7 linked regions of the Homo sapiens genome follow. The protein of the gene in region 7 purifies or fractionates together with the protein of the main gene of each other region. This does not show direct contact. Each region holds a gene or a part of one and is shown on either strand. Other genes may lie near its edges.

The links.
Region 1: the proteins of SPARC (region 7) and EPHX2 fractionate together in Homo sapiens (co-fractionation; one large-scale study listed by BioGRID). This does not show direct contact.
Region 2: the proteins of SPARC (region 7) and NPEPPS fractionate together in Homo sapiens (co-fractionation; one large-scale study listed by BioGRID). This does not show direct contact.
Region 3: the proteins of SPARC (region 7) and VPS13A purify together in Homo sapiens (co-immunoprecipitation; one large-scale study listed by IntAct). This does not show direct contact.
Region 4: the proteins of SPARC (region 7) and ATF6 fractionate together in Homo sapiens (co-fractionation; one large-scale study listed by BioGRID). This does not show direct contact.
Region 5: the proteins of SPARC (region 7) and VGF purify together in Homo sapiens (co-immunoprecipitation; one large-scale study listed by IntAct). This does not show direct contact.
Region 6: the proteins of SPARC (region 7) and TGFBI purify together in Homo sapiens (affinity purification with mass spectrometry, with the first as the bait; one study listed by BioGRID). This does not show direct contact.

What each region holds. Positions count from the first base shown.
Region 1 is NC_000008.11:27,539,221-27,543,305, reverse strand, and holds part of EPHX2 (bifunctional epoxide hydrolase 2), read right to left. Parts: intron 2,753-4,085; coding exon 2,650-2,752; intron 1,834-2,649; coding exon 1,764-1,833; intron 1-1,763. UniProt on the Homo sapiens protein: Bifunctional enzyme. The C-terminal domain has epoxide hydrolase activity and acts on epoxides (alkene oxides, oxiranes) and arene oxides. Plays a role in xenobiotic metabolism by degrading potentially toxic epoxides.
Region 2 is NC_000017.11:47,586,023-47,590,107, reverse strand, and holds part of NPEPPS (puromycin-sensitive aminopeptidase), read right to left. Parts: intron 3,961-4,085; coding exon 3,864-3,960; intron 3,744-3,863; coding exon 3,710-3,743; intron 2,879-3,709; coding exon 2,764-2,878; intron 1-2,763. UniProt on the Homo sapiens protein: Aminopeptidase with broad substrate specificity for several peptides. Involved in proteolytic events essential for cell growth and viability. May act as regulator of neuropeptide activity.
Region 3 is NC_000009.12:77,183,535-77,187,619, forward strand, and holds part of VPS13A (intermembrane lipid transfer protein VPS13A), read left to right. Parts: intron 1-4,085. UniProt on the Homo sapiens protein: Mediates the transfer of lipids between membranes at organelle contact sites. Binds phospholipids. Required for the formation or stabilization of ER-mitochondria contact sites which enable transfer of lipids between the ER and mitochondria.
Region 4 is NC_000001.11:161,769,146-161,773,230, forward strand, and holds part of ATF6 (cyclic AMP-dependent transcription factor ATF-6 alpha), read left to right. Parts: exon of another isoform or gene 1-3,470; intron 3,471-4,085.
Region 5 is NC_000007.14:101,162,655-101,167,168, reverse strand, and holds the start of VGF (neurosecretory protein VGF precursor), read left to right. Parts: upstream 1-1,599; 5' UTR 1,600-1,795; exon of another isoform or gene 1,796-2,183; intron 2,184-2,305; 5' UTR 2,306-2,325; coding exon 2,326-4,173; 3' UTR 4,174-4,514.
Region 6 is NC_000005.10:136,031,577-136,035,661, reverse strand, and holds part of TGFBI (transforming growth factor-beta-induced protein ig-h3 precursor), read right to left. Parts: intron 1,900-4,085; coding exon 1,801-1,899; intron 1-1,800.
Region 7 is NC_000005.10:151,673,416-151,677,500, forward strand, and holds part of SPARC (SPARC isoform 1 precursor), read right to left. Parts: intron 3,633-4,085; exon of another isoform or gene 3,530-3,632; intron 2,787-3,529; 5' UTR 2,774-2,786; coding exon 2,717-2,773; intron 1,260-2,716; coding exon 1,197-1,259; intron 1-1,196.

The sequences.
Region 1 (4,085 bases), on a different chromosome or scaffold from region 7:
AGGGAGGCATGCACAGGAAGGCCAGGAAAGCCTCTGTGTTTTTTCCTTTGTTCTCGCTCCACCATTACCCTAATTTCCAAGCAGCTTTGACCCATCCCTGGTTGAGGAACGTGCACTATTTTCATTTACACCCAGAGTGATGGGCATCTCTCCACACCCCTCCCTCCTCCCACAACCAGGAGCCAGGAGAAGGTCAAAAATGATTTTGTGGCTAAAACGAATCCTGAGGCTTCTATGAGGTTTGTAAACTCTAGAAAGTTCCAAGCTAAAATGTGAACTGGGCGGGGGGCGGGGGGGGGAGAGGATGGGATGGGAGGAGGTGGGGGAGGAGAGAGGAAGATCCAGCTGGAAACTGCAGAAGAGAGGCTGGGTGCAGTGGCTCACGCCTGTCATCCCAGCACTTTGGGAGGCCGAGGTGGGTGGATCGCCTGAGCTCAGGAGTTTGAGACCACCCTGCGCAACATGGTGAAGCCCCATCTCTACTAAAACACAAAAAATTCGCTGGGTGTGGTGGCGCACTCCTGTAATTCCAGCTGCTTGGGAGGCTGAGGCAGGAGAATTGCTTGAACCCAGGGGGCAGAGGTTGCAGTGAACCGAGATCGTGCCATTGCATTCTAGCCTGGGCAACTGAGCAAGACTGTCTCAAAAAATAAACTGCAGAAGAGGAGGGTTTCTGACCTTAGCACCATTGGGATTCACCTTCCCAGCGCCTTTGTCAATATTTTCCTCCACGCTTTGAGAGATTTTGTCTGTCCAACTGCAGTTTGGTCATTTTCATCGGTCATATGATGATAATGACAAGGAACACTAATGGAGCTAATAGGTTCCCAGTACTGCTTGTAACAGGTCACATGCCTTCAACCATTTCATCCTTACACAGCTCTGTGAGGGAGGCACTGTTCTTGCCACTTGCATATTGCAGAAGAAGCCACAGTGGATCAGAGGGGTTAAGTACCTTTCCCAGGGTCACACAGGGATTAGACTCAGCCCATGTGCTTCCTAGCCTGCTCTTAACCACGATGTTATATACTCTAGTGCCTCAAGACTTAATTTTGGGAGGTCAAGACCTGGTCTGTTTACACACCATGGTATCCCAGGGTCTGGCAGGAAGTCTGGCATGTAGCAGTGTGTTCACTTACAGAGTGAACCAACAAGGTAACCATGGCTACTGAGTGAGCTGATGAAGGCCTAGCTACCTGTGCAGTCACACTGGGGAACAGATTTCCCTTAGATTTTTAAACATTTTGAATGTAAACTGGGAACCTCCATTACTCCTTCTGCAGACCCAGAGATTGGAAACTCATCTTCTGCTTGACAAATGAGGAAACTGAGACTCAGAGATTGACTTGTGCAAGGTGACACAACCGAAGGCTAAAGTCACATCTCTGAGAGCACCTAACGCTCCTCTGGGCTGGGGGCTCCAGTATCCATGTCACTTCTGGGAGGTGCCCCAGGCCATCTGCAGCCCTGCCTTGGGGTACCACCAGGGGACCTGGGGATTCCGGATGGATGCTGCAGTTCCCTGGACACACCCCAGCTCCATCCCCAAGGTCACCCTCTACCATCCCAAGAGAAGCACCAGCAAGAAAGATCCTAGGGAAACCCCTGAAGGGAGTCACTTCCCAAACCCCAAAGGGAAAGGAGGTGGCCAGCAGATCTGTCCACAACCAGCTCTGGCCCAGGTCATATCAGCTCAGGCCAATGGGAAGCCCCGCGGGCGGGTCCTGGGGTGTGGATGAGACTACACTGAACCTGGCACTCACCTTCCGTCCCAAGCTTTTGCAAGCCCACTTCCAGTTCCTTTCCATGTTTCGGTACCAGTTTAGAGGACCTCTGGGGAGAGATCAGAAAGTAAAAAGAGGGAGGCAGTAAGTAGACGGCTCTGCTACAGACACCAGCAGAAACCTGCTCTGCACAGCCAGTCGTCCTGGGAAGAGCAAAGCCTCCTGCAGGGGCAAGAGAATAGAGCCCAGGACCCACGCCTTGCTGTCGGGCGCAGTTGCCAAGCTCTAGCAGCAAGGCCTTGTGCAAGGACACAGGACTCCACTGAGTGAACTGGCAGCCTCTAGGTTGGCTTTTGGGACACAAAGAAGCCGGCCCTACAGGACCCTCCAGGGAATGTCATCGTGTCACCTTGGAGGCTGGGGAGGTTGCTGATGGTGGGGAACTTGGTTTAGCAGCCTCACCATCCAGAGGCCACTCGCCTGCCCCAGGGAGCCCACTTGAGAGGGACATTGGGAGGTGGAGCAAAGATGCCCCCTCCTAATATGACATCAGGAAGTAGGGCAAATGCACCAAAATGTATGCACTTTTTGAGTTTATGTGGATTTTTATGTTTTTCTGAAGAAAGAGCCCAGAGTTGCCATCTGATTCTCTGAGGAGCCATGACTAAAAAGTAGTGAAAACCCTCTGCCCTATGGGGGCCCCATAAGCATAAGGAAGAACAAGCTGAGCTATCCCAAACTAGAGCAGGCTGAGCACCATAAAGTAGTGAGCCTCCCGACACTGGAGGCATTGAAGCAGAGGCTGGCCTGGCACTAACGAGGGCTGTGGTGGAGGAGAACTGGGCCTCACCCTCCACCCTGAGGGCTGAAGATCCCTATCTGTCGATCATCTCTCATCTGTGTCTGGGCCCTGTGCTCTCTTTACCTGAAACCAGACTTCTTGAACTGCTGCACATAGAACTGGATTTCCTCCTCAGTGACCATCCTGCTGAGGCTGGGCTCTTCTGGGCTATTTACAAAAAGTCCTCCTGCAAAAAAAGCCACTTGTTGACTTTCCCATCCCCGGGCCAGGTGTCTGCATTTTAAGGTGGGGACCTCATTGCCTCTCGCAGACCATCTGAACTTGCGCAAGGCCTTATGAGTGCCTCCATCTTTTGTTCCCTTATCCTTTGCCAGAGTGATCCCATCTCCTCGAAAGCTCAAAGCTGTGATCTCACGGTCACACTGGAGCCTGATGTTCCCTCCCACCTAGCCACGACTTCACGGGCTATTATCACAGCTCCTGGACCAACCACAGTTGCCGGCTTTTTCAGGCACACAGCAGCTATATCCCAGACCCTGCCAGCCCCCAGCTCCTGCTCTCCCCTCGTCTAAACCTTTCCCAGCCAGCTTAACTGTGGCCCTTTGGAGATATCGCCAGAGATTCTTGGAATTTTCATAAGGATTTGCTCCGTTTTTCCTCTAAGGCAGGAAGAGAACCCAGGCCAGGTGGCTGCATCCTGTCACCTCCCACGTGCCGCACAGACCCTCTGTGGTATCCCACTGTGGACCCCTCTCTTGTCTTCAGGGTGCTGCACAGTCCCTCCAGAGGATGGCCTGTGATGACCCCTGGCAGCCCAGGGACCACTGCAATTTCACAGGGCACAGCCTCAATGCTGGTGCCTGAACAGGGCCCGTCGGCATTTTCAGATTCACGAAGACCCGGAGGCACAGGAACTGGTCATTCCAGGCTTTTGTGAGACACATCAAAGGGGTATGTGATGAGGATGTCACCCTGTGATGAAGCCACCCTGAGCCTCCCCACCAGGCGGGTGCTCCAGACTCACTGTACCTCAGGGCCCCTCTGCGAGCATCCCAGCTGCTCTGCCTCCCGTGAGACTGTGGGCTCACTGAGGGTGGCCACCCTGCTTCGTGTGTCTGGGTAGCTGAGCATGCAGCCCCAGCTTCATACCCAGCCTGTGCTCACAGCATTTGAGGAATGAATGAATGGGTGAATGAATGAGTGACAGACGGTGTGAAGGAATAAGGGAATGTGGGTGTGGGGGAGGGAAGGAAGATGTTCTTTGAGCAGTGACAAGAGCATGGCCTGCAGGGTCAGAGGAGTTTAACCCCAGCTCAGCCACTTCGGACAAGTTACTTAACCCTCTGAGACCTGTTTTCCTCTTTGGAAATTAAAAATAGTAGCATTTTTCAGAATGCTTCGAGGATCACAAATATTTTATCTAAAGGGGGTTAGTCCAGAGTTTTATACAGATGGTCAGCACGTGCCCAAACAAGTGACAGTGGTCATCATTATTCATAAAAATACAAGTGAATGCTGTCAAGGCCACAGTGCTGCAGCAAAAATAAGGTCTTGTGGGA
Region 2 (4,085 bases), on a different chromosome or scaffold from region 7:
CCTCCCGCCTCAGCCTGCCAAAGTGCTGGGATTACACGCGTAAGCCAGTGCATTCAGTCCTAAGTAACTTTTTAAATACCAAAGGTAGAAAAGGAAGAAGAGGGAAAAAAAAAGCCCATATATGGAAAAGGAAAAGACAACAGATAAATATAGGCAAATAGAGGTGGAAAATATAATCATGTAGAATTTAGTATAGTAAAGGATTATCTCTGAAAAACAAAAACAGAAAACTATCAGAGCCAAATAAAGAAAAATGGAAATGACAGGGGAAAACCACTCACTAATGAGTTGAATGTTCAAGAGAAACTGAGAAAGAGTACTGCTTATATAAAAATTATGTGAAATTAAACAAAAATGCAGTTCAGTAATGAATGGTGTTTAAGCACTTATGGAATATAAAATTATCACCTGTTAAATAAGAATGCATAGTAAATGGAATGGACAAAGAATATGAGTGACAGATAAAATCAATTTTAAAAAAATTTGAAAGATCTTAATCTAAATTTTATTAAAGTTGATTAAGCCTATTAGTAAAAGAAAGCAGGCCAGGCACAATGGCTTGCTCCTGTAATGCCAATACTCTGGGAGGTCAAGGCAGGAAGATCACTTGAGCCCAGGAGTTTGAGATAAGCCTGGGCAACATAGTGAGACTCCATCTCTAAAAAAATTAAAAAGTAAAAAAAAATTAGCTGGTCATGGTGACACACACCTGTGGTCCCAGCTACTTGGGAGGCTGAGGCAAGAGGATTACATAAGCCCAGGAAGATGAAGCTGCACTGACCCATGATTGTGCCACTGCACTCCGGCTTGGGTGACAAAGTGAGATCCCATTCTCCATCCCCAACCAGTCCCCCCAGAAAAGGCCAGGTGTGGTAGCTCATGCCTGTAATCCCAGCACTTTGGGAGGCTGAGGTGGGAGGATTGCTTGAGCCCAGGAGTTTGAGACCAGTTTAGGCAACAAAGTGAAACCCTGTCTCTACAAAAGGCAATACAGTGAAACCTTGTCTCTACAAAAAGTGCAAAAATTAGCTGGGCATGGTGCCACACACCTGTAATTGCAGCTACTCAGGAGGCAGAGACAGGAGGATTGCTTGAGCCCAGAGGTAAAGACTGTAATGAACCATGATTGTGCCATTGCACTCCAGTTTAAGTGACAGAGTGAGACTCTGTCTTAAAAAAAAAATTATTTTGATATTAAGTGATAAGTGGCTATTTGCCTAGTAGCTTCCTAAAATAAACTAGCATAAAATGAAACTTATTTTCCAACCTATCCCTAAGCCCTTGGAATTTCAGTTCTAATAACTAGAATAGTTACATAAAACCAGTAAAAAGTTGTTTAATAAGAATGTACACATTTCCCCTACTAAAATTTATTGCTTGTTTCAAAATAAAATCATAAAGTTATCTCAAAACCAAGCAAAAAAATTATTTGGTACAAAGTAGCAAACTTGCTGCATTAGAAGAAAAGGCCATTTCTTCACATATTTGAATACAGGCACCAACACATAATTCCACATGAAATTATATTTCTTTTTTTTTTTTTGAGATGGAGTTTCGCTCTTGTTGCCCAGGCTGGAGTGCAGTGGCGTGATCTCGGCTCACTGCAACCTCTGCCTCCCAGGTTCAAGTGATTCTTCTGCCTCAACCTCCAGAGTAGCTAGGATTACAGGCGCACACCACCACGCCCAGCTAATTTTCTATTTTTTTTAGTGGAGATGGGGTTTCGCAACATTGGTCAGGGTGGTCTCAAACACGTGACCTCAAGTGATCCACCTGCCTCAGCCTCCCAAAGTGCTGGGATTACCGGCGTGAGCCACCGTGCCCGGCCTGAAATTATATTTCAAAGAATTTTTTTCACCTGTAAAATTTTAAACATCCAAAATAAAAGGAAAAGATTTATTTTCAAGGGTTGACTTTCTGTAGAAACTCTCTGAGACACGTAATAGTTGATAAATGTCTTACATTCTTATTTATATGACGTATGGACTCAATCTACATTCAAATCAGGTTCTGCTCTTTGGCAGCCTAAAATGTCAGGGAATCTAGCTGGCTCCAGAATATCCAGTTATTTAATTGCAGAGGTACATCTAGTTCACTTATTAAATCCTGTGCTCCCAAGCTCTAACACAGTTGGCATTCATAAATAGTATTTACTTAGAGTAAGAGTGAAAAATCAGGACTGAAGGACAGAGATCATTACTGCAAACATTATAAGGATTTCAACAGAACAGCTGGAATTTTAATACAGCTTTATTCTGCAGTCACTCTGCAGTTTGTTTACTTTTATTTCATTAAATTTCAACTTAACATTTTAGGCAATGAAAAAACTGACTCCTAAAAACATTTCTCTCTAATTAAAGATCAGTTTGTTATTCATCAGGTTACTTTTCAGCTGTGAATCAGATTAACAAATAAGATTCAAGAAACTACAGTTAGCCTGGAATCTCACTGCATGATTCATTCATCTACACCTAAGAGGAATGTTTTTCTCTCACCCAAATTAGTATCTTGACTTTTCCCACTTGCAGACAAATTTTAGAACAGTTTAGGAAGTGTCTGTTGAATAAAGACTGTCCATATGCCCTTGTTCAATGCAGAGATTCTGATAAGCCTTTTCAAAGTGGACCTTTTAAAATAATACTTTTCTATCACTCAATTATTTTTTGGCACAGTGTTGCAGCCAAACTTGAAATACTATGTAGCCAAAATAATGTGGAGTAGGATGAAGATAAATATATTTGAGCACTTAAAAATATTAAATACCATAGTAACAAGATTTCCAAACCATTGATGGGCGAGTTCATGTCCCACAACCAGAGCAACCCACTGGCGGGATGAAGAACAGGAATTTTTTGGATCAATAAGCAATGCAGTCTCCCTGTGTTTAAAAAAAAAAAAAAGAAACAAATTTAAACAATAAAAGTGGGCATGCATAAGTTGGGAAGATTCAGACAGTAAGTCAGATGGACAAGTTAGGCTTTAGAGATATTAGGAAAATATTTCCTAATATGGAAAGAAAAAGTTTCACGAAGATTAAAGACTACCCCAACAGAATTAATACAACAGAATATCAAAGATGTGACACAAGTTTAATTATCAGTTTGTTGATAGAATAGCTGCCTGAAATTTTGGGAAAACATTGTCTAAGGGATTAGCGATTACTGTGCTAGATGGAGAGAGAAGAAAGTCCTTCCATTAAATGAGGGGAGTGGTGGAGGAAGATGCATTCCATAGTCCCAAAAACAGCACTGAGCCGGCTGTCCAACACTTAGCTCATCTAAAAAGGCAATTGAAAGTAGAAGGCAAAAACTTGTTTACAGACAGACTCTGCTTTTAAAAGTTATTCAACTCACATGTTTATGTTGTGGTGACAGACATGTAAAAACTTGGCTAGAAGATATGAAATTAGGGAAGGTTCTCCAAGCTGGATAAATAGCTATGAAACTACTGCAATGAGAAACTTAGCCAAGAATATATCTAAAAATGCTACTACCGCCAGATGCTCACTTTAAAATCTTACACCCTCAGACAGTAGCACCAAAGGGAGGGGTGTCCATCTGCATTCTTGAAATGTGCACGGAAGTGGGGGAAGGTAGAAAAATTTACACCATATCGTAAAGCAGAAGCTACTCAACTGTGATTAGGAGGGAAGCCCTTTTGAAATCAGTGATTTGAAAAGATAAGGCAGGGTAACACATCATTAACATACCTATAAGTAACAAGGCCCCAGTTCTCCATGGCACCTTCACAAAATAAATATAAACATTTATTGATATATATATATATATATATACTCTTGCATCAAAAGTCACAAAATTTTAAAAAGTTATTACAATTCAGCAATAAAATGAAATTTACTTTACCAGCTGCAAAGTCTGCAATAGCAATGAGATCAATTTTAGGTAGAGGATAAGGAACATTGAAGTAGTCCTTATAAAAAGGCAAGGTTTTAGCAGCAACCTATAAAAGTATAAACAAAATAACCATCTAATAAATATGTTATTATAATTCATATTGAAACCCACAAAGGAATCCTGTTGCAAGCCAATGTATCTTAAATTACTAGAAATGAATCCCGAGGAGCC
Region 3 (4,085 bases), on a different chromosome or scaffold from region 7:
GTGGTAGTACAATCAATAATTTATTCCTTTTTATTGCTGACCATAGCAAGTGGTGGTGAGGATGTGCAAAAACTGGAACTCTGTTAATATGTCTCCTGGGGATGTAAAATGTTAAACAACTTGGGAAAACAGTTTGGCAATTTCTTAAAAAGTTAAACATACATCAACCATGTTATCAAGCCATTGTGCTTCTACATGTTTACCCAAGAGAAATGAAAGCATATGTTCATACAAAGATTTGCACACAGATGTGCATAGCAGCTTTATTTTTAATAGCCCCAAATGGGAAACAGTCCAAGTATCCACCAACAGGTGAATGGATAAACAAACTGGCATATCCATATAATGGAATACCATTAATATTTAACCACACATGTTTTGTCACATACCTGTCCATCTGTCCATCTCTCTATCCATGCAGCAATTCATATTATTAAATGTATTTCAGAATAAGTTGTAGAGATGAGCTCATTTCCTCCTAAATACTTCAGCATGTGTATCATTAGAGTGCAATATTTGCTTAGTTTTTTTCCTTTTGAGGTAAAATTTATGTAGAAGAAAATATACAAATCTTAAGTGTACATTGACTGAGTTTTGACAAATACATACACACATGTAACTCAAACCCAGTCAAGATATAGAACATGACCATCACCCCAGAAAGTCTTTTTCCTGACCTTTCCTAATTTATTCCTACCCTCATCTTCAGAGGCAACAAATACTCTAATTTTTTTCTTTCTGTCATACATACACATCTATTCTGCTTTGCTGAGAGTGTTTTCTTTTCCTTCAAGAATGTTGGAGCCAGGCATGATGGCTCATGCCTGTAATTTTAGCACTTTGGGAAGCTGAGGTGGCCAGATCAGTTGAGGCCAGGAGTTCGAGCCCAGCCTGGCCAACATGGTGAGACCCTGTCTCTACTAAAAATACAAAAATTAGCTGGGTGTGGTGGCGGGCACCTGTAGTCCCAGCTACTTGGGAGGCTGAGACACGAGAATCGCTTGAACATGGGAGGCGGAGGTTGCAGTGAGCCGAGATCGTGCTACTGCACTCCAGCCTAGGTGACAGAGCAAGACTCCGTCTCAAAAAAACAAAAACAAAAGAATGCTGGATTTTGTCAAATGTTTTTTTCTGCATCTATTACTATTATCACAGGATTTTTTTCTTTTTTAATCTGTTGGTGTGATACATTACATTAATTGATCTTTGAATGTTGAACTAGCCTTGCATACCTAGAATAAATCCCATTTGGTCATGACGTGTATGTTTAGCACTCAGTATCTCCAGGGGTTTAGTTCCAAGACCTGTGCAGATACCAAAGTCCACAACAGGGAGGGCATGGAAGCTCCCCACCACCTTACTTTGCTCTGTCCATCTCTTTATCTGTATCCTTTGTAATATCCTTTATGATAAACTGTTAAATATAAGTATTTCCCTGAGTTTTGTGAGTTATCCCAGCAAATTATCAAACCAAATAAAATCAGGTGCGAACCCTGATTTATAGCTGGTCAATCAGAAGCACAGATCACAGCCTGCGACTTGTGACTGACATCTGAAGTGAGGGGCAGTCTTATGGAACTGAGCCCTTACCATGTGGGATATGACATTATCTCTTTTTTTTTTTTTGAGACAGAGTCTCGCTCTGTCGCCAGGCTGGAGTGCGGTGGCGCAATTTTGGCTCACTGCAACCTCCGCCTCCCGGGTTCAAGTGATTCTCCTGCCTCAGCCTCCCGAGTAGCTGGGACTACAGGCGCCTGTCACCACACCAGGCTACTTTTTGTATTTTTAGTAGAGACGGAGTTTCACCATGTTGACCAGGATGGTCTTGATCTCTTGACCTTGTGATCCACCTGCCTTGGCCTCCCAAAGTGCTGGGATTACAGGCGTGAGCTACTGCGCCCGGCTCGATATGACACCCTTTCTAGGTAGATAGTGTCATTATTTAATTGAATTATAGTTAGTGTCTGTTGGAGAATTGTTTAGGGATTGGGGGAAAAACTTCACATATCTGGTTATCTAAGGGTTCTGTGTCGAATATGAGAGTAGAGAGAAAAACCTTTATTTTCCTTTGACAGTGTCTTATCATATTTATAGCTGTTTTCTGTTTTGTTATACTTGTTTCCTTTTTAAACAGTCTTCCCCTCCTCTTTTGCCCTCTCTGGTTTTAATTGATCATGTGATATGATTTAATTTTTTTCTCCTGTCTTAGCATACCAATTATGCTTCTTAAACAATTTATTTAAGTGGTTGTATTACAGTTTGTGCTGTTCACTTAAAACTAGTCCAAGTCCACGTCCAAATAACATTATAGGTCAGGTATAGTGGCTCACGCCTGTAATTCCAGCATTTTGGGGGACTGAGGCTGGCGGATCATTTAAGGTTAAGAGTACGAGACCTGCCTGGTCAACATGGTGAAACCCCATCTCTACTAGAAATACAAAAAATTTGCTGAGCATGGTAATGTGCGCCTGTAGTCTCAGCTACTCAGGAGGCTGAGGTATGAGAATCTCTTGAACTGGGAGGCAGTGAGCCGAGATTGTGCCACTTCACTCTAGCCTGGGCGACAGTGCGAAACTCTGTCTCAAAAAACACAAAAACAAAAATCCCACTATACTACTTCATGGAAAATGGAGGTAGTATATGTAATACTCTATCTTACAATACAGTATACAGATTCCTCCCTTCTGCCCATTGTAACATTGTTGTCATTAATTTCACTTACCTATAAGCTGTAATAATCCAATGCATTGCTGCTATTAGTATTTTAGACATTTTTCTATTAATTTAAGAATAAGGAAGAAAAGACTTAATTTACCTTCATCTCTTAATTCTCTAATGCTCCTGTGAATCTGAGTTTTTGGTTTAAATCATTTTCCTTCTTTCTGAAGAACTCCTTTATTTATTTGTTTTTTTTAATTTTTGAGATGGAGTCCTGCTGTGTTGCCCAGCCTGGAGTGCAGTGGCGCAGTCTCTGCTTACTGCAACCTCTGCCTCCTGGGTTCAAGCGATTCTCCTGCCTCAGCCTCCTAAGTAGCTGGGACTACAGATGCATGCCACCATGCCCAGCTAATTTTTGTATTTTTAGTAGAAATGGGGTTTCACTATGTTGACCAGAATGGTCTTGATCTCTTGACCTAGTAATCTGCCCGCCTCGGCCTCCCAAAGTGCTGGGATTACAGGTGTGACCCACCACACCCGGCCTATCTTAACCATTTTAAGTGTACACTTCATGTCATTAAGTACACTTACATTGTGCAACCATCACCACCATTCATCTCCTGACTTCACCATTATTCATCTCCTGAATTCTTCATCTTGCAAAACTGAACCACTTACCCGTTAAGCAATGACTACCCATTCCACCGTCTTCCCAGACCCCAGTAACCGTTATTCTACTTTTGATGTCTGTAAATTCGAATACTTGAAGTATAAGTGGAATTATACAGTATTTGCCATTTGTTATTGGTTTCTTTTACTTGGCATAATGTCCTCAAGGTGCATCCGTGTTGTAGGAAATGTCAGCATTTCAATAATTTTTCAAGCTAAATAGTATCCCATTGTATGTATATACTGCATTTTGTTTCTCCATTCATCTGTTGATGAATAGTTGGGCAGCTTCCACCTTTTGGCTGTTGTGAATAATGGTGTTATGAATGTGGATATTTTTCTTTGAAGTTCAGTCTGTGCTGTCAGATTTTTGGGTTACATACCCAGAAGCAGAATTACTGGATCATATAGTAATTCCATTATCAATTTTTTTGAGGAATTATCATACTACTTTCTATAGTGACTGCACCATTTTACATTCCTACCAACAGTGTACAAAGGTCACCATTTCTCCACATCCTCACCAACATTTATTTTCTCTTTTTTTGATAGTAGTTATCCTAATGGATATGAGGTGGTATCTTGTAGTTTTCATTTACATTTCTCTAATTAGTAATGTTGAACATCTTTTCATGGGCTTATTGACCATTTGTATATCTTAATTGGAGAAACATCTATTTAAGTCCTTTGTCCATCTTTTAATCAGGTTGTTTGTTTTTTGAGTTGTAAGAGTTTACATACAAACATACACACACACA
Region 4 (4,085 bases), on a different chromosome or scaffold from region 7:
GCAGGAGCAGCCAGAGACAGCATAAACAAGTGAGCATGGCTGTGTTTCTATAAAGCTTTATAGACACTGAAATTTGAATTTCACATAATTATTTTAAATAATAAGCCTACTTTTTTAGTATAATTATAGATTTACACAATAATTGAGCAGATAGTACAAAGAGTCCACATACTTCCCCTTCATCCCCAGCTTCTCCTATTGGTAACATCTTGCATTAGTGTGGTACATTGGTTACAATTGATGAGCCAGTATTGATACATTATTATTAACTAAGCCCATCATTTAAAGTTCACTCTGTTGTACATTCTATGGCAGGGATCCCCAGCCTTTTGGCACCAGGGACTGGTTTCATGAAAGACAATTTTTCCACAGGAGGTGGGGACAGGGAGGCACAGGAAATGTTTTCAGGATGATTCAAGTGCATTACATTTATTGTGCACTTTATTTGTATTGTTATTACACTGTAATATATAATGAAATAATTATATAACTCAACATAATACAGAATTAGTGGGAGCCCTGAGCTTGTTTTCCTGCAACTAGATGGTCTCATCTGGGGGTGATGGGAGACAGTGATTAGATCATCAGGCGTTAGATTCTCATAAGGAGCGTGCACTCTAGATCCCTCACATGTGCAGTTCACAGTAGGGTTCACACTCCTATGAGAATCTAATGCTGCTGCTGATCTGACAGGTCGTGGAGCTCAGGCGGTAATGCAAGTGATGGGGAGTGGCTGTAAATACAGATGAAGCTTCGCTCACTCACCCACCTGCTGCTCACCTCCTGCTGTGTGGCCTGGTTCCCAACAGGGTTGGGAACCACTGTTCTATGGGTTTTGACAAAGGTATAATGACATGTATCCATAATTACAGTATTATATAGAATAGTTTCACTGCCCTAAAAAAGCCCTATGCTCTACCTATTTTTTCCTCCTTCCTCTTCCCTACCTCTGGTCAGGTAACCACTGATCTTTTCACTGTCTCCATGGTTTTGCCTTTTGCAGAATGTCATATAGTTGGAATCATACAGTATGTAGCATTTTTGAATTGGCTTCTTTCACTTAGCAATATGCACTTAAGGTCCCTCCATGTCTTTTCATGGCTTGATAGCTCATTTCTTCTTAGCACTAAATAGTATTACAAAAATACTATTTACAGTGTTACAAAAAATAGTATGTATGTTCTATAGCCTATTAGTCTGCCTAGGCTGCCATAAGACAACACCACAGACTGCGTGGTTTAAACAATGGAAATTTATTTTCTCCCAGTTCTGGAGGTTAGAGTTCAAGATCAAGATGGCCGCACCTTCAGGTTCTGGTTAGGGCTCTCTTCCTGGCTTGCATGCACATGGCTGCCTTCTTCTTGTGTCCTCACATGGCACTGAGAGAGAGAATCTTCTTCTTCTTATAAGGCCACAGTCCTATCAGATTAGTGCCCCACTTTAATGACCTCATTTAACTTTAATTACCTCCTAAAGACTGTATCTCTCGATATAGTAATATTTGGGGTTAGGGCTTCAACATACGAATTTTGGAGGACACAGTTTAGGCCATAAATTCACAGTTTGCTTATCCACTTACCTATTGAAGCACATCTTGGTTGCTTCCAACTTTTGGCAATTATATATAAAACTGCTGAAAACATTTGTGTGCAGGTTTTTGTGTGGACATGCATTTTCCAATTGTTTGGGTAAATATCAAGGAGCACAATTGCTGGATTGTGTGGTAAGAACATGTTTTTTGTTTGTTTTGTAAGAAATTGCCAAACTGTCTTCCAAAGTGGCTATACCATTTTGCATTCCCGCTAGCAATGAATGAGCATTTTTGATGCTCCACATCCTTGCTAACATTTGGTGTTGCCAGTACTTTGGATTTTAGTCATTCTAATAGGTGTGTAGTGGTATGTTTTAATTTGCAGTTTCCTGATGACATATGATGTTGAGCATCTTTTCATATGCTTATTTGCCGTCTGTATGTTTTACCCTCCTCTCTCCTTCTCTCTTCTCTTTTACTCTTGCTTGAATTTGTGCAAAAGCTGCTTTATTCTGCTTTCTTCTTTCTTCCCTCCTCCTCCTCCTTTCTCCTTTCTCCTTTTTCCTTCTCTTTATTCTTCTGTCAGCTGTACTTAAGATATGTGTATCAAGATCAGAAGCTTTCGTCTGCCACTGTGGTTTCGTTTATGTCTTCAGTCTCTTCTGTGAAGGTTCTCTTGGCTTTCTAGCACTAAATCAAAATCTGGTGCTCCTGGATGACACAACTTCCCGTAATGCCCCGGTGAACGGTTGCTAATTTTATTCTCAAAACCTTTTCACCATAGGGCCTCTGTTGGTGGGATAGGTGTCTCCATTGTCCTTCACTGCTATTCTCCTTTCCTCCTCCCTAAAAATATCTAAGTTGAAATCTCATTTTGTCACAATATCCCATCCTCTACCTCTCCTGATTCCTGGATCACTCTCTTTCACTTTTCTTTTTTTCTTTTAGAGATGGGGTCTTGTTCTCTTGCCCAGGTTGGAGCTGGAGTATGCGGTGGAGCAATCACAGCTCACTGCATCTTCAGACCCCTGGGGTCAAAGGATCCTCCTGCCTCAGCCTCCCGAGTAGCTGGGACTACAGACACATGCCACCATGCCTGGCTTCTTTTTGGCTTTTTGAAAACATTTTGCCACTAGCTTACTGTTACTTTCTTCACCATTACTTCCATCATGATTCTTGGATGATTTCAGTATCCTTAGAGAAGATCCTTCAGATACACTGACCTGTCATTTTCTGGACCTCCTCTTTATCACTGATCTTACCTTTTACCCAGTCTCAGCCATTTGCTTTCCTGATCATAAGCCTAAGTCTTGTCACTACCAATAACATCTCACTTTCAAACATCCTGCTCTGACTGCCTTCGCCTGTTTTACCAGCTTACTTCCTTTAGTATTCCAGTTTCAATAGTTGTTCAGTCCTTCTGAGATTTTGCCATGTTTCCAGTGTCTCTCATTCTCTTCAGTTCATCACGTCCCTCTTACCCAGTTTAAATACCATGGACAGTCATTGTCACTATTTCCTTCCTTTCACCTTTCATATTCATGTCTGTCTCTTTTCTGGTAGGTTTCTCTTGGATAAACCTATTAGTTAAATTCAGTTTTGCCCACTTCATGCCTGTCCTAGTATAGCTGAATCAGCTGAAGAAAACACTTCAACTGTCCTGACTGGTCTCAATTTAAGTGTTGCCAGACCAATCATATTTCCCTGGTCCTCTCACTGTCCCATTCTGATGATTGCTTTATAAAGTTTCTTCTATCTTCAAACCTCCAACATCTCTCCCATCCTTTGAATCAGAAGAGAACTTCTACAGTCTCCCACTACCTCATTTACCCACCTATCAACATGTTTGCTTTCTCTTTTGTTGGTGAGAATGAGTGGCTTCTTGCTCCTAGCTAGAGCCAGTCCTTCCATATGTGCTTTAGATTCTTCCTGTTTTGTTCAAGAATATTGCTCAAGCTATTCTTCCTCCTGTTTCCTGCATCAGCATTTCCCCTCTCTACTAGATCATCTCTGTCAGTAAATGAACATGTTGTTGTTTCTCCTAGAAGTACTGTTTCTATATCTAGATAGTACTCTAGCTAGAGTTAAAAAAAAAAAAAACAAAACCAACAAACTCAAAACTCTCTTCAGATGTTACTTCACCTCTTGCTGTTACTGCATTTCTCTACTGTATGTTACAGCAGAATTCCTTTTAAAAAATGTCCACGTTCACTGACTCTAGTTTTTTATTTCTCCTTGTCTCTTGAACCCAGTCCAGTCAGGTGCCACCACTCCACTGAAACTCCTGTTTTTTTTTTTTTTTTTTTTTTGAGACAGAGTCTTGCTCTGTTGCCCAGGCTAGAGTGCAATGGCACGATCTTGGCTCACTGTAACCTCCACCTCCTGGATTCAAGCGATTCCCGCCTCAGCTTCCTGAGTAGCTGAGATTACAGGCGCCTGCCACCATGCCCGGCTACTTTTTGTATTTTTTTTTTTTTGAGACGGAGTCTCTCTCTGTTACCCAGGCTGGAGTGCAGTGGCTCACTCGGCTCACTGCAAGCTCCACCTCCCAGGT
Region 5 (4,514 bases), on a different chromosome or scaffold from region 7:
GCTGGTTATAGAGAGAAAGCACGTGAGTGTGTGTGTAGGGAGGGGGAGGTTAGAAGGAGGGTCAGTGCCAGGAAGAGGTGAGGAGGGGGGCGAGGACCGTTTCTGAAAGAGTCTCTAAGACCCTGACAGACAGCCCTGACCTTGGTTTCCAGAGTCTCAGGGTGCGGGTGCCCTGCGTGTGCCCACGAGCACCCCTATGTCCGCAGTTCGTGTGTGTCTGGCGTGTGTCATTGTCATTCCCCCCTTCCCTGCCCACGCCCCCGCACCGCTCTCTGCCAGCACCGCAGCCCCCTCCAGGCTTCCTCCCTCCCTCCCCTTCATTCCTGCAGTGGCTGCCCCCCTTGCCACCCTCTCCTCTCCCCTGCCCCCTCCCCATTTCCGTCCTCCCCCCCACCCCCGCCCACGGCTGGTCTCCCTTCACCGGACCCAGCTCTCTGATGGATTCTCTTTGCGCAAATCTGTGCGTCATCGCCCCCCACCCCCGGAACCTCTAGCTGTCCAAGCCCCCAGCCCCAACCTCTCTGGCAGGAGATACGGTCGAAGGGGCTGGTGGCAGAGAGGGGCTATCTCTGACGTTGCAGGTCCCCCTCCCATCGCGTTCAAACCTTCCCTTTAAGCGGTGGAGAGAGCTGGAGTTGAGTCACCCCCCCCCCACCTGCGCAACCCCCTCCCCACCTGCTCTGGTCTCGCCCTCCAAACGTCCTTGGGGGAGGGGAGCGGCAGGAGGGAAAGCGACTGGGGGAGTGTGGGAAGAGATGGGCCGAAGGGGGCACAGCGGGGGGCCTTGACACAAGCGGCAGTCAGGGGACAGAAGGACAGACACACCTTTTTCTCCAGACACAGCACGGATCGTGAAACAGACACGACCCAGAGGCACACACATCCTCATTCTTTCCCTTTTCTCTTCCGACTCGGACCCTTCCCGATGGGATTACCAAAACCGCAAGATCCACCCATCTGCCCCTGTCAGGGGGCTGCCACCCGCACTGCCGATTCGCGGACAGCGCCCGCAGGCGTGCAGATCTGTCCCTCTGCACTCAGGTTCACGCCGTCCTTGGGCGCGTGGTCTCGGGGTGGGGAACCCGGCCCCCTGGTCGGCTCTTGAATCTTTATCCTTCCCCTCCCCAGTATTGAGCTCCCACTGGTGCCCAGTCAGACGCTGGGACTACCCTTTTTCTATTCCACTCAGCAACGCGGGCTCCATCCAGCAGCTCCAAGTTGCTCTGCAACCCACCCTCCCGCCTTCCAGCGCCTCTGCATCCACCCTTCCATTCATTCTCCCATTCATTCATTCATCCTTTTCTCCTCGTCCCTCCTTCATTCATTCATAGCCCCCCGCCCTGCCCGCTTCAGCATTTCATTCATTCATTCATTCATTCATTTCCCGGAGCTCCGCTAGCGCACACCCCTTCAGCCGAAGGCCCCAGCGCGCAGGCGCAGGCCGGGAGAGGCAGGCACCCTCCAATCGTCGGGCGTCCTTCCTCCTCCGGGCGGCCGCCCGCTTCCCCATGAATGAACATTGACGTCAATGGGGCGGGGCGCGCCCACGTGACCCCGCGCGCTCCCCTTTATAAGGCGGTGGAGGCGCGGGCGCTGTCCAGCGTGCTGAAGCCGGAGCGAGCTAGCCGCCCGGAGCCGCGCCGACCCAGCTGAGCCCAGCCCACGGGACGCCAGACCTCGACCGTCGCTCCTACCCCGGCCACCGCTCGGAGCCGAGGCGGACGCGTCCCGATCTTCCCCTGTCCCCACCCTGCCCCGACCCTCCTCTCCACCTCTCGCGTCGTGACACCAGCTGGTAAATACTCCGCTGTTCGTCCCTCAAACCCTCGGCAGCCAGCCGTGGGCGTGAGGGAGGGTTCTCTCTCCTCTCGATGGGGGTGTTGCAAACACAGCGGGGAGCCCCCTGGTAAGGGTCCCCGGTAAACGGGGGAGTCGCAGCTTTTTCTCTTGCTGCTGAAGTCGCCCACGCACCATCCGGGGAGTCCTACGGGGAGGGAGCAGAGATTTTTTTTTCCCCCATATTGCTGCTGCTTAGTACGTGGGCGATGGCAGTGAGATGGCTCAGGGAAGGGGCCGAGGAGGCCCTGGGTAAGCGAGGGCTTCGGGGGTTATTTTCCCATTTACACGGCTCCAGAGATCGGCACAACATCTTCCTCCTTTGCTCCTAAACGTTCCTCTTCTGGGTAAGGTTTGGGGGATCAGGGAAGCCCCGGGTTTCCTGCTGAAAGGTGGGGGAAGGGAACGTAGACCTAGAGAGGGGAATTCTTACAGAAATCCTCTTTTTTTGGTCCCTTCTATTTTTCAGTCTCCGGCAGCCTCTTGGTCATGAAAGCCCTCAGATTGTCGGCTTCCGCCCTCTTCTGCCTTCTGCTGATCAACGGGTTAGGGGCAGCACCCCCTGGTCGCCCTGAGGCGCAGCCTCCTCCTCTCAGCTCTGAGCATAAAGAGCCGGTAGCCGGGGACGCAGTGCCCGGGCCAAAGGATGGCAGCGCCCCAGAGGTCCGAGGCGCTCGGAATTCCGAGCCGCAGGACGAGGGAGAGCTTTTCCAGGGCGTGGATCCCCGGGCGCTGGCCGCGGTGCTGCTGCAGGCACTCGACCGTCCCGCCTCACCCCCGGCACCAAGCGGCTCCCAGCAGGGGCCGGAGGAAGAAGCAGCTGAAGCTCTGCTGACCGAGACCGTGCGCAGCCAGACCCACAGCCTCCCGGCGCCGGAGAGCCCGGAGCCCGCGGCTCCGCCTCGCCCTCAGACTCCGGAGAATGGGCCCGAGGCGAGCGATCCCTCCGAGGAGCTCGAGGCGCTAGCGTCCCTGCTCCAGGAACTGCGAGATTTCAGTCCAAGTAGCGCCAAGCGCCAGCAGGAGACGGCGGCAGCAGAGACGGAAACCCGCACGCACACGCTGACCCGAGTGAATCTGGAGAGCCCGGGGCCAGAGCGCGTATGGCGCGCTTCCTGGGGAGAGTTCCAGGCGCGTGTCCCGGAGCGCGCGCCCCTGCCGCCCCCGGCCCCCTCTCAATTCCAGGCGCGTATGCCCGACAGCGGGCCCCTTCCCGAAACCCACAAGTTCGGGGAAGGAGTGTCCTCCCCCAAAACACACCTAGGCGAGGCATTGGCACCCCTGTCCAAGGCGTACCAAGGCGTGGCCGCCCCGTTCCCCAAGGCGCGCCGGCCGGAGAGCGCACTCCTGGGCGGCTCCGAGGCGGGCGAGCGCCTTCTCCAGCAAGGGCTGGCGCAGGTGGAGGCCGGGCGGCGGCAGGCGGAGGCCACGCGGCAGGCCGCGGCGCAGGAAGAGCGGCTGGCCGACCTCGCCTCGGACCTGCTGCTCCAGTATTTGCTGCAGGGCGGGGCCCGGCAGCGCGGCCTCGGGGGTCGGGGGCTGCAGGAGGCGGCGGAGGAGCGAGAGAGTGCAAGGGAGGAGGAGGAGGCGGAGCAGGAGAGACGCGGCGGGGAGGAGAGGGTGGGGGAAGAGGATGAGGAGGCGGCCGAGGCGGAGGCAGAGGCGGAGGAGGCGGAGAGGGCGCGGCAGAACGCGCTCCTGTTCGCGGAGGAGGAGGACGGGGAAGCCGGCGCCGAGGACAAGCGCTCCCAGGAGGAGACGCCGGGCCACCGGCGGAAGGAGGCCGAGGGGACAGAGGAGGGCGGGGAGGAGGAGGACGACGAGGAGATGGATCCGCAGACGATCGACAGCCTCATTGAGCTGTCCACCAAACTCCACCTGCCAGCGGACGACGTGGTCAGCATCATCGAGGAGGTGGAGGAGAAGCGGAAGCGGAAGAAGAACGCCCCTCCCGAGCCCGTGCCGCCCCCCCGTGCCGCCCCCGCCCCCACCCACGTCCGCTCCCCGCAGCCCCCGCCCCCCGCCCCCGCTCCCGCACGAGACGAGCTGCCGGACTGGAACGAGGTGCTCCCGCCCTGGGATCGGGAGGAGGACGAGGTGTACCCGCCAGGGCCGTACCACCCTTTCCCCAACTACATCCGGCCGCGGACACTGCAGCCGCCCTCGGCCTTGCGCCGCCGCCACTACCACCACGCCTTGCCGCCTTCGCGCCACTATCCCGGCCGGGAGGCCCAGGCGCGGCGCGCGCAGGAGGAGGCGGAGGCGGAGGAGCGCCGGCTGCAGGAGCAGGAGGAGCTGGAGAATTACATCGAGCACGTGCTGCTCCGGCGCCCGTGACTGCCCTTCCCGGTCCCGCCCCCGCGCGCCCCCGCCGCGCGCGCGCGCCGGCGCCCCCCTCCGTGTTGCCCGCTCCCCCTCGGTGTTTGCATGCGCCCCGGCCCTGCCCCTTGGCCCTGCCCCTGTCCCCGGGCTGCGTCGGGACCTGCCAGACCCCCCTCCCGGGTCCTGAGCCCGAACTCCCAGAGCTCACCCGCGGGTGACCGGGGGCCAGCCCAGGAGGGCGGGTGGTTTGTGCGAGTTCCCTTGCCACGCGGGGCCCCGGCCCCATCAAGTCCCTCTGGGGACGTCCCCGTCGGAAACCGGAAAAAGCAGTTCCAGTTAATTGTGTGAAGTGTGTC
Region 6 (4,085 bases), about 16 Mb from region 7:
ACTAAAGGTTTTCTTTTCTTTTTTTTTTTTTTTTTTTGAGACGGTGTCTCACTCTGTCACCCAGGCTGGACTGCAGTGGCACGATCTTGGCTCACTGCAAGCTCCGCCTCCCAGGTTCACGCCATTCTCCTGCCTCAGCCTCCCGAGTAGCTGGGACTACAGGTGCCCGCCACCACGCCCGCTAATATTTTTGTATTTTTTTAGTAGAGACGGGGTTTCACCATGTTAGCCAGGATGGTCTCTGTCTCCTGACCTTGTGATCCGCCCACCTCGGCCTCCCAAAGTGTTGGGATTACAGGCGTGAGCCACTGTGCCCGGCCCATCTTTTTTCTTATTTTTTAAGTCAGGCATCCTGGAAGAATGGGTGGTGTATAATTTGCATAGTCTCCTTTTGTTCATAGCAGCAAGAATATCGCTGGGTGTCTGTTAGCTGAATCTTGGCAGTGTGTCCTCCTAGCTCACTCAACTTTTAGCTTGCAGGCTGGGCTGTCAATCAGGCATGGAGCAAGCTGCCATGGACCTGCCCTGGACAGGCTCCCAGGGACTGCTGGTATCTCCCCAGCTGTGCCATGAATCCCAACTTCCCTCAATTCATATTAGGATTGCTAATTGCCTAACATAATCAGGGTCACACATTGGAATATTTATTTCCACATACAGTTTAAGGAAAGAGCATTTTCTCTTCTTTCAGTTGGCTATTAAATTGGAGGAGATGTCTGCTCAAAAGCAATGTCACAACAATAAACTTAAAAATCCCTAACATTGAAAAGTGCTTAAGAGAGTGGCTTAGAGTTTCTTAATCATCCCATTATGTATGGAGACAGGAGGAAGGTCAGGCCTTCACAAGTGGCTCAGGAGATTTGTCATACACATCTTCCTAGCTATAGGAGACAGCCAGCTTTGAGATCTGTTGACAGTGCCAAAACAGATTAGGTTTCCCCAGAATTGTTAGAACATGCACCTGATTCCACCAGGGAGCTGGGCAGTGGGGTAAAAGCTGCCTCCCTCCTTGCTGAAACAGACATCAACAAGCCCTATTGTAACCACACTGGTCCACACCCCGTTGGCACTCTTACTTCTGCTTGTGTGGTCTAGATTTGCAAATCTAGGGTGATAATAATAATAGTAGCTAGCATTTATTGAGCACTGATATATGCTGGGCACCATATTCAGTCTCTTATGTACATTATTTCATTCAATCCTTGTAACAACCCCATAAGGTGGGTCCTTTTGTTATACGAACTTTTCAGGTAAAGCAATGGAGGGTTCTAAAGATGAATCGACTGGCCCAGGTAGAGCTAGGGTTTGAATGAGGAAGTCTGTGCAAATATTATATGCTATGCTGTCTCATAATCTGCATATGTTTAGTGCTCTAAGTCTTTTTGGGGTGTTTACCTTAGGACTGTAAGATAGGGATGGCATTCTTTAGTACAGATTCACCAATGGGCTTTCTTTTCCAGAGTCACATGCTGGTGGCTTCTCCACTGCATATCTGTATTATTTTATGAGGATTGAGAAACACACACACACACACACACACGCAGTGTTTCATGTTTCTTGCAAACCCAAACCAGCCCTGAAAAATGTCTCCAAGTCTTGTCAGCAGCCTTAAAAATGCAAAACAAAATTGGCCAGCTTCCTAAAAATGCCACTCCCTAGCACGCAGGTCCCAGACATGTTCGCACATGCATCTTCATGGCTTTTTAGGCAACCTGACCTTCTAGAAGGCTGGCCCAGGCCCTGGGGAACTGCAGCCAGCGTGCATACAGCTTGGTCTCCTGGCTGGTTACAGATACTCACGTTGATTTGCCACAGATTTTCCTTTGGTACCACTGCTTGCAGTTGGTGAAGTACTTCCTATTAGTGCCAATAACCTTCTGCACAGCACACACGTTGGGGCTGAAAACAAAAGCAGCAGAATTAGGAAGATGATCAGCACGTCCACCCCACTTTAATGACTCCCATCGTGTTTGCCTCCTTGGGTCACTGGAACTTTCTAGAGATAGAGGAGAGAGTCATTTCAGTCTTGGTACTGGGGATATCTTGGGTTTAGACTTTGGTTCTGTTTACCTAGATTCCCATCAGCCCCCATGAAAGCTTCCCCTGCAAAAATTGTTAAAATCTCTCTTACATACTGATGTAACTTCATGTACATATCCTTCTTTGACATGGGCAATTGATAAGTGTAAACAAAAGCATCTCTCAGGCAGCTCTCCATACAGACATGCTCTGCATGCCTGGACCAGCTGCTTGGCTCCCAAAGACAAGCCATTGTTACTGTCTATCCTATAAACCCGAGGCTTTATAGCTGGTTTAAACCATGGCTGGTTGCTCTCAGGACCCTGATAGGGGATGCTCTCCCATTTAACTCTCAGTTGTTCATTACTTAGATCACAGCTCAAGTCCCACTTCCCCCAGGAGCCTTTCTCCAATGTCCCAGATGACATGCTGCTTCCCATCCTCTGACAGTGGATACGGTCCTTATTTGATGTTGGGTTCCAAACAGAATTCCTGTAAGTGATGCGGGGAGGTGGGGGGTGTCTCTTCTCTGCATCTAACACTCAACAGAACCTTGAGGACAAGTGTTCTGCCTTGTTCTGTTGTTCACATTCTAGATGGGGCCTAGCATCCAGGCAGGGTGTAGAAGGAGCACGAAATGAACTTGTTGAAAATACTGCTCCCCAAACTACCCAGATCCAAAGAATCCTCAGGGACCCTGTGAAAAAGCAGAGTGTAAATGTCTGGGGGTTCTGCTAAGAAGCCTTTTCCAGAACCACAGGATTTTGGTTTTGCATGTTTTTTTCAAGTATACCAAGTCCTGACCCAAACTGTGCTCAGGCCAGGTGATTGTGAAAGCTTCATTAGGAGCCCCTAGGGAAAGGAAGCTGCTGTGCTACGTGGTCAGTCAGGAGAGGCGTGGTCAGTCAGGAGAGGGTTGATCTTCCTGAGCCAGAGGCAGGCATGCATCTGACTGAATCACAAGTCAGAGGAAAGCAAATAAAACAAACAATACTGAGGGCTTTCACAAGACCTCCAAGCTCAGAGAACTTCAGGTATCACCCAAAGGATGAAGTATTTCTTTAACATCAATTTCCCTGTTACTTTAAGAATGCCATCCACAGACATCACTTGATGTGCAGCGTATTTGTTAAGAAGACACCAATATTGCAGTAAAAACTACACCTACTGTCCCCATCATGATTCCTCTGCAGGAACTTGAACAATTCTCAAATATTCAGAGTCAGGCTTTTGGGTGGGAGTCCATTCTGCCCCTTCATTTCTCTGCCCTGTCTCTTCTGCGGTGATATGACTGTCACCTCTTGGCCAGTTTTTTGTTCAACAGGTGAAAGTGAGTGGGCCCAGGAGGGACAATGAGCATTAATGAATCCATGTAAGGATCTAGGGACAAGAGAAGTGAAGGCTGGAGAAGGGACCACAGCCAGCAGAGGCCCATGCCTCCCTAGTCCTAGCTGGGCCTGACCAAATCCTCCAGATTTCTGAATACCTGGTTTCTGTTTGCTGCCTAGGATTCACAGGTTAGACAGTCCCTGAATAACCCCTGAAGAGTCCTTGCTGGCCATACTCCAGCCCCCGGTCCTATTTATTGTTACAGAATCCCAGAAGCTCTTCAATCTGATCAAGCAGGAAACAATTACTGTCAATGAATTCCCTGCCACTTTCCGTAGGCGTTTGGCGAATCTTCAGTGAGTCTCTTGTGGATGTGGCTCCAACATTCCTTTGCTGAATGTTTCCACTGCTGCTGTCCTTGTGGCAGCAGCAGAGGCTGGGGGCGGCTGTGACCCTCTCCTTCTCACATCGGGGAGTGTGGGTGGGCTGTGTACATAGGAAGTTCATGCTGAAGCTTAATTGAAATGAGCAAGTTGCTTCTGGGCCTCAAGAATAACAGCATTGATGTTCAGCTTAGATTTGAAAACCAAGTGCTTCAGGAAATTCAGTTCAGTTTTTGGTGGTTGATGTTTGGAAGTGTGATTGTATTTTTACTTCTCTTTCAGTATTATTTTTCCCCTTCCCTATAGCAACACAGATATAGCTGGGAGTCAAGAGACCATATCATAGTTATTACT
Region 7 (4,085 bases):
AGAGTGTGAAAGGAAAATATACCTTGGACCCCAAAATCACTAAGCTAAGGGGAAAAGTCAAGCTGAGAACTGCATAGGACAAACCTGCCTCCTATTCTATGCAGTCATCCCTCTGAGGCTCACCTGAGACAAACGCTTATCTGATTGCTTCCTCTCCCCTATTGTTTATGTAAAAATGCAGATTCACTGAGCCAGATTAAATTGTGTATTCAGGGGAAGGCTGATCAAGGACTCAAAGGAATGCAACCATTTGTCTCTTATCTACTTCTAACCTGGAAGCCCTCACTTCTCAAGTTGTCTTGCCTTAGCGAACTCAACCAATGCACAATTTAGACATGTTGATTGAAGTCTCGTGTCTCCCTAAAATGTATGAAAGCAAACTGTACTCCCGACCACCTTGGACACATGTCTCAGAACTTCCTGAGGCTGTGTCACAGGCACATTCTTAACCTTGGCAAAGTAAACTTTCTAAATTGACTGAGATCTATGTTCACAAGAGGGTGTCAAGCCTCCACCCCTGCCAGCCACACCCAAGCATCTCCCCTTTCCTCTGTGTGTGTGTGTGTGTGTGTGTGTGTGTGTGTGTGTGTGTGCTTGTTTGTTTGTTTGTTTTTGAGATGGAGTCTCATGCTGTCGCCCAGGGTAGAGTACAGTGGCGAGATCTTGGCTAACTGCAACCTCCACCTCCCGGGTTCAAGCGATTCTCCTACCTCAGCCTCCCGAGTAGCTGGGATTACAGGCACCCGCCACCACGCCCAGCTAATTTTTTGTATTTTTAGTAGAGACAGGGTTTCACCATGTTGGCCACACTGGTCTTGAACTCCTGACCTCGTGAATTGCCTGCCTCGGCCTCCCAAAGGATTACAGGGATTACAGGCATGAGCCACCGCACCCGGCCTCCTCTGTTTTACGTTTGCAAAAACTGTGGGTAATCATGGAAGAACAACTGTTGCATAGCTTAAAAAACAAAAATTTTAAGGTCCTGGTCCCCAAACGTAGGGTTCCGTTGAAGGTTTGGGAAGCATTCAGGAGTGTGTCAGGATGTGGGATATACTCAGGGTTTGCATCTATGCTATGTGTGTACAGGGAGACGAATGCCCCACTCTAGCATTGAGACCCACAGCATCCGCCCTAATTTCTCAGGGCACAGATACAGGTAGAGAGGGGCTAAGGGGCTGCGGTCACTGCCCACATACCTCAGTCACCTCTGCCACAGTTTCTTCCACCACCTCTGTCTCATCAGGCAGGGCTTCTTGCTGCTGTTGGAAAGAGAAAGTAGCGTTCAGAGGGGTCAGGAATAAGGCCAGCTTCACCTCCAAAGTGCCTGTGGCCTCGGATACAGGCTAGGGGAGCTTGGAGAGCAGCTTACTGGAGATCCCCAAAGTTGTGCCTCATGGACTGCCATGGTGAGGGACAGAACAAAGAAGAAGCCAGTCATGTGAGCACCGTGGAACACTCAAGCAGCTCCCATTTTATATATTTTATATCCTAGGTGTCTACCTAAGATTTAGCTTGGAAAAGTATTTCTGCTGCTTTGAATTCTTATAAAGTCTGAAAATCACTGATCCAGACCAATTCTTTCACTTTACAGATAGGAAAATTGACATCCAGAGGGGATGACACTGTGAATTTTAACAGATGTCATCATCTTCCTCACAGTGTGATATTATTAGTAGTATTATTAGGCAATTTTTCTTGCCATTTCAACTTGGAGTAGGAGGAAGCAAGAAAACACACAACTTTGAGGCCCTTAGCTGGCTGGAGCTGCTTCAAAACTTAATGCCAACTTTGAGAAACTTTTGCCTCCATCTACCAGCCTGATCAAGATTGCCAGGGTCTGCCATCACTCCCACTTCTTAGTAAACAGAGGATGAGGGGATCACAGGTTGAAAGAAATTGCACTTTTTGCCTGCCCTGTTTCTTCCTCCTCTCCTTGTGAAGGCTTCCAGATGAGCTGTGGATAACTACTCCTGTCCCTGCATGCAATGCTTCGAGGAACTGTCTGTCAATCAAGGGGCCCCACTCTCACCTGGCCAAGAAGCTGGCTCAGGACCCAAGCTCAGCCAGATTGGCTCTCATTTTTTGAATTTATAAAAACCTTCTTGGCACATTCTCTCAAGATGTGAAAATTGCTGGAGTTGATTCATTCAGACAGCAATATCTCAGAGACTGTCCATTAGTTCTTAACTCCCAAAGCCTAGAGCTGCCCTTTTCCAGTCCTCCCCAAGGCCTTTAATATTATAATCTACCTCTGTATCTTCCCCTCCTTCCCCAATTTAGTCAGATTGAACTGTTGCTTACAACCAAACAACCCTCACTGTTTCAGAAGCCAACACATTCCTCTCTCTATAGCTTGAATCTCTTCTAATACCACCCCTACCAGAAATCCCCCACATCCTGTCTCCTGCCTGCTTGAATTCCTCATATGACAAAGAGGTCATTTCCTTCTAAAGCAATCCTAGTTCATTGCTGGGAGGCTCTGACTACTAAGAAGTTTATCTAACATTACATGGAACTCTCTCTTCTCTGATACCTCCACCCAATGGTCCTCATCCCAGTTTTTATCCCGAGCTTCCTAACTTAAGAAAAAAAAAAGACCACTAACTTGAAATGGGGAAGTCCCTGTTCCCTTTCAGCATCCAGGGCTGGCAGGCTCAGAACCCCTGGTGCTAGCGGTAGGAATGAAAACAAGAAGACATGATATTTAGGTACTTACAGGGGCTGCCAAGGCCCTCCCGGCCAGGCAAAGGAGAAAGAAGATCCAGGCCCTCATGGTGCTGGGAACCCTATGGGGAGGAGAGATTGAGAGTTCAGTGAGGGTGAGACTTCCTTATGGAGATTTCCTTCTGAATTCCTGATATGTGCAAGATAATGTTAGATGGTACAAGTTAAATGATAGTGAAAAACATGAGGAGGTTGGTTCCATTTAATATTCTTTCAATTCTGCTTATATGAGAAGAAAGTCTCAGTTTGGTGCCAAGATGTCTTAAACACCTCCTTTATACTCATCTATCTCCTTTTTTAACAAAAAGAGAATAAGCCTCCAGCTCAGAGCTTCCACAGGAAGTTATATCCAGCTGGAACTGAATCAAGTTGTTTTGTTTTTTTTATGTGTTTGTTTTTACAGTTTCCTTCTATTTATGACAAAGGTACACAGAGTTTTTTCCATTTATGGTAGTGATATAAAATCTGCTTTTGTAATACATTTATTAAAGTTTTTGCAAAGTGATTCAACTAAGGTGATGGGCTAACTAGTTAAGTTTGGGCAATGCCAAACCAGATCATCTTCAAGGTCCCTTCAATCCCTGATATTCTAAAATTATTTTTTTCCCTAAACCCAATCTCTCCTCTTCCTCCTCTGTCGCCTCCTCCCCCTCCTTCCTACTCCCTCTGCAATGGGAGAAGTTAATAGGCAGGAACTTCTTGCCAGTTTGGGACAATGAGATCCACATTCTAAAACAAAGAACAATAGTCTTGGAATGTAACCCATGGAAACTTGAGGGTGGCCACATTTTTCTCCATTCTACCCAGAAGAGACAGCACTTCTTTAGGTCCTGTACGGAAACCATCCAGATGCTTCCATGTGTTGCAGAGGGGATGTTAGCTGAGATCTAGAAAATACCTCTGTTCTGGTAACTGTTAAGGCCTCATTCTCTAAATGCCAAGCTCTAGACTCTAATACTCTCATGACTATAAGGGATTTTGGAGCAGTATCTCCTCTGAGGATTCAAAACTAAAATGCTATTCCTAACAGAGGCTCTGTGGTGGAGACATTTCATTTCTTGCACTAACTAAATGGCTTTTCATTCTCAAGTGACTTTAGAAAGTTCTTTCTTTTACTGATCTAAATGTGCCTCCCTCAAACTTTCTGATCTGTCTACCCCATCTCCCCTGCAGCCACAAAGAACAAACCTGCTCTCTCTACCCACAAATAACCTTCCATCAGGAGCAACAGTGGCCATGTCTTCCCTCTTTCTTCTCCCAAAACCTCCCTGTCAGGCTCATCATCCCTTATTTCTTCCAAGACTTCTCAACTGACCAAATGGTGGTGGGAGGTAACCCGGCATCATGGAGAAAAATACTCA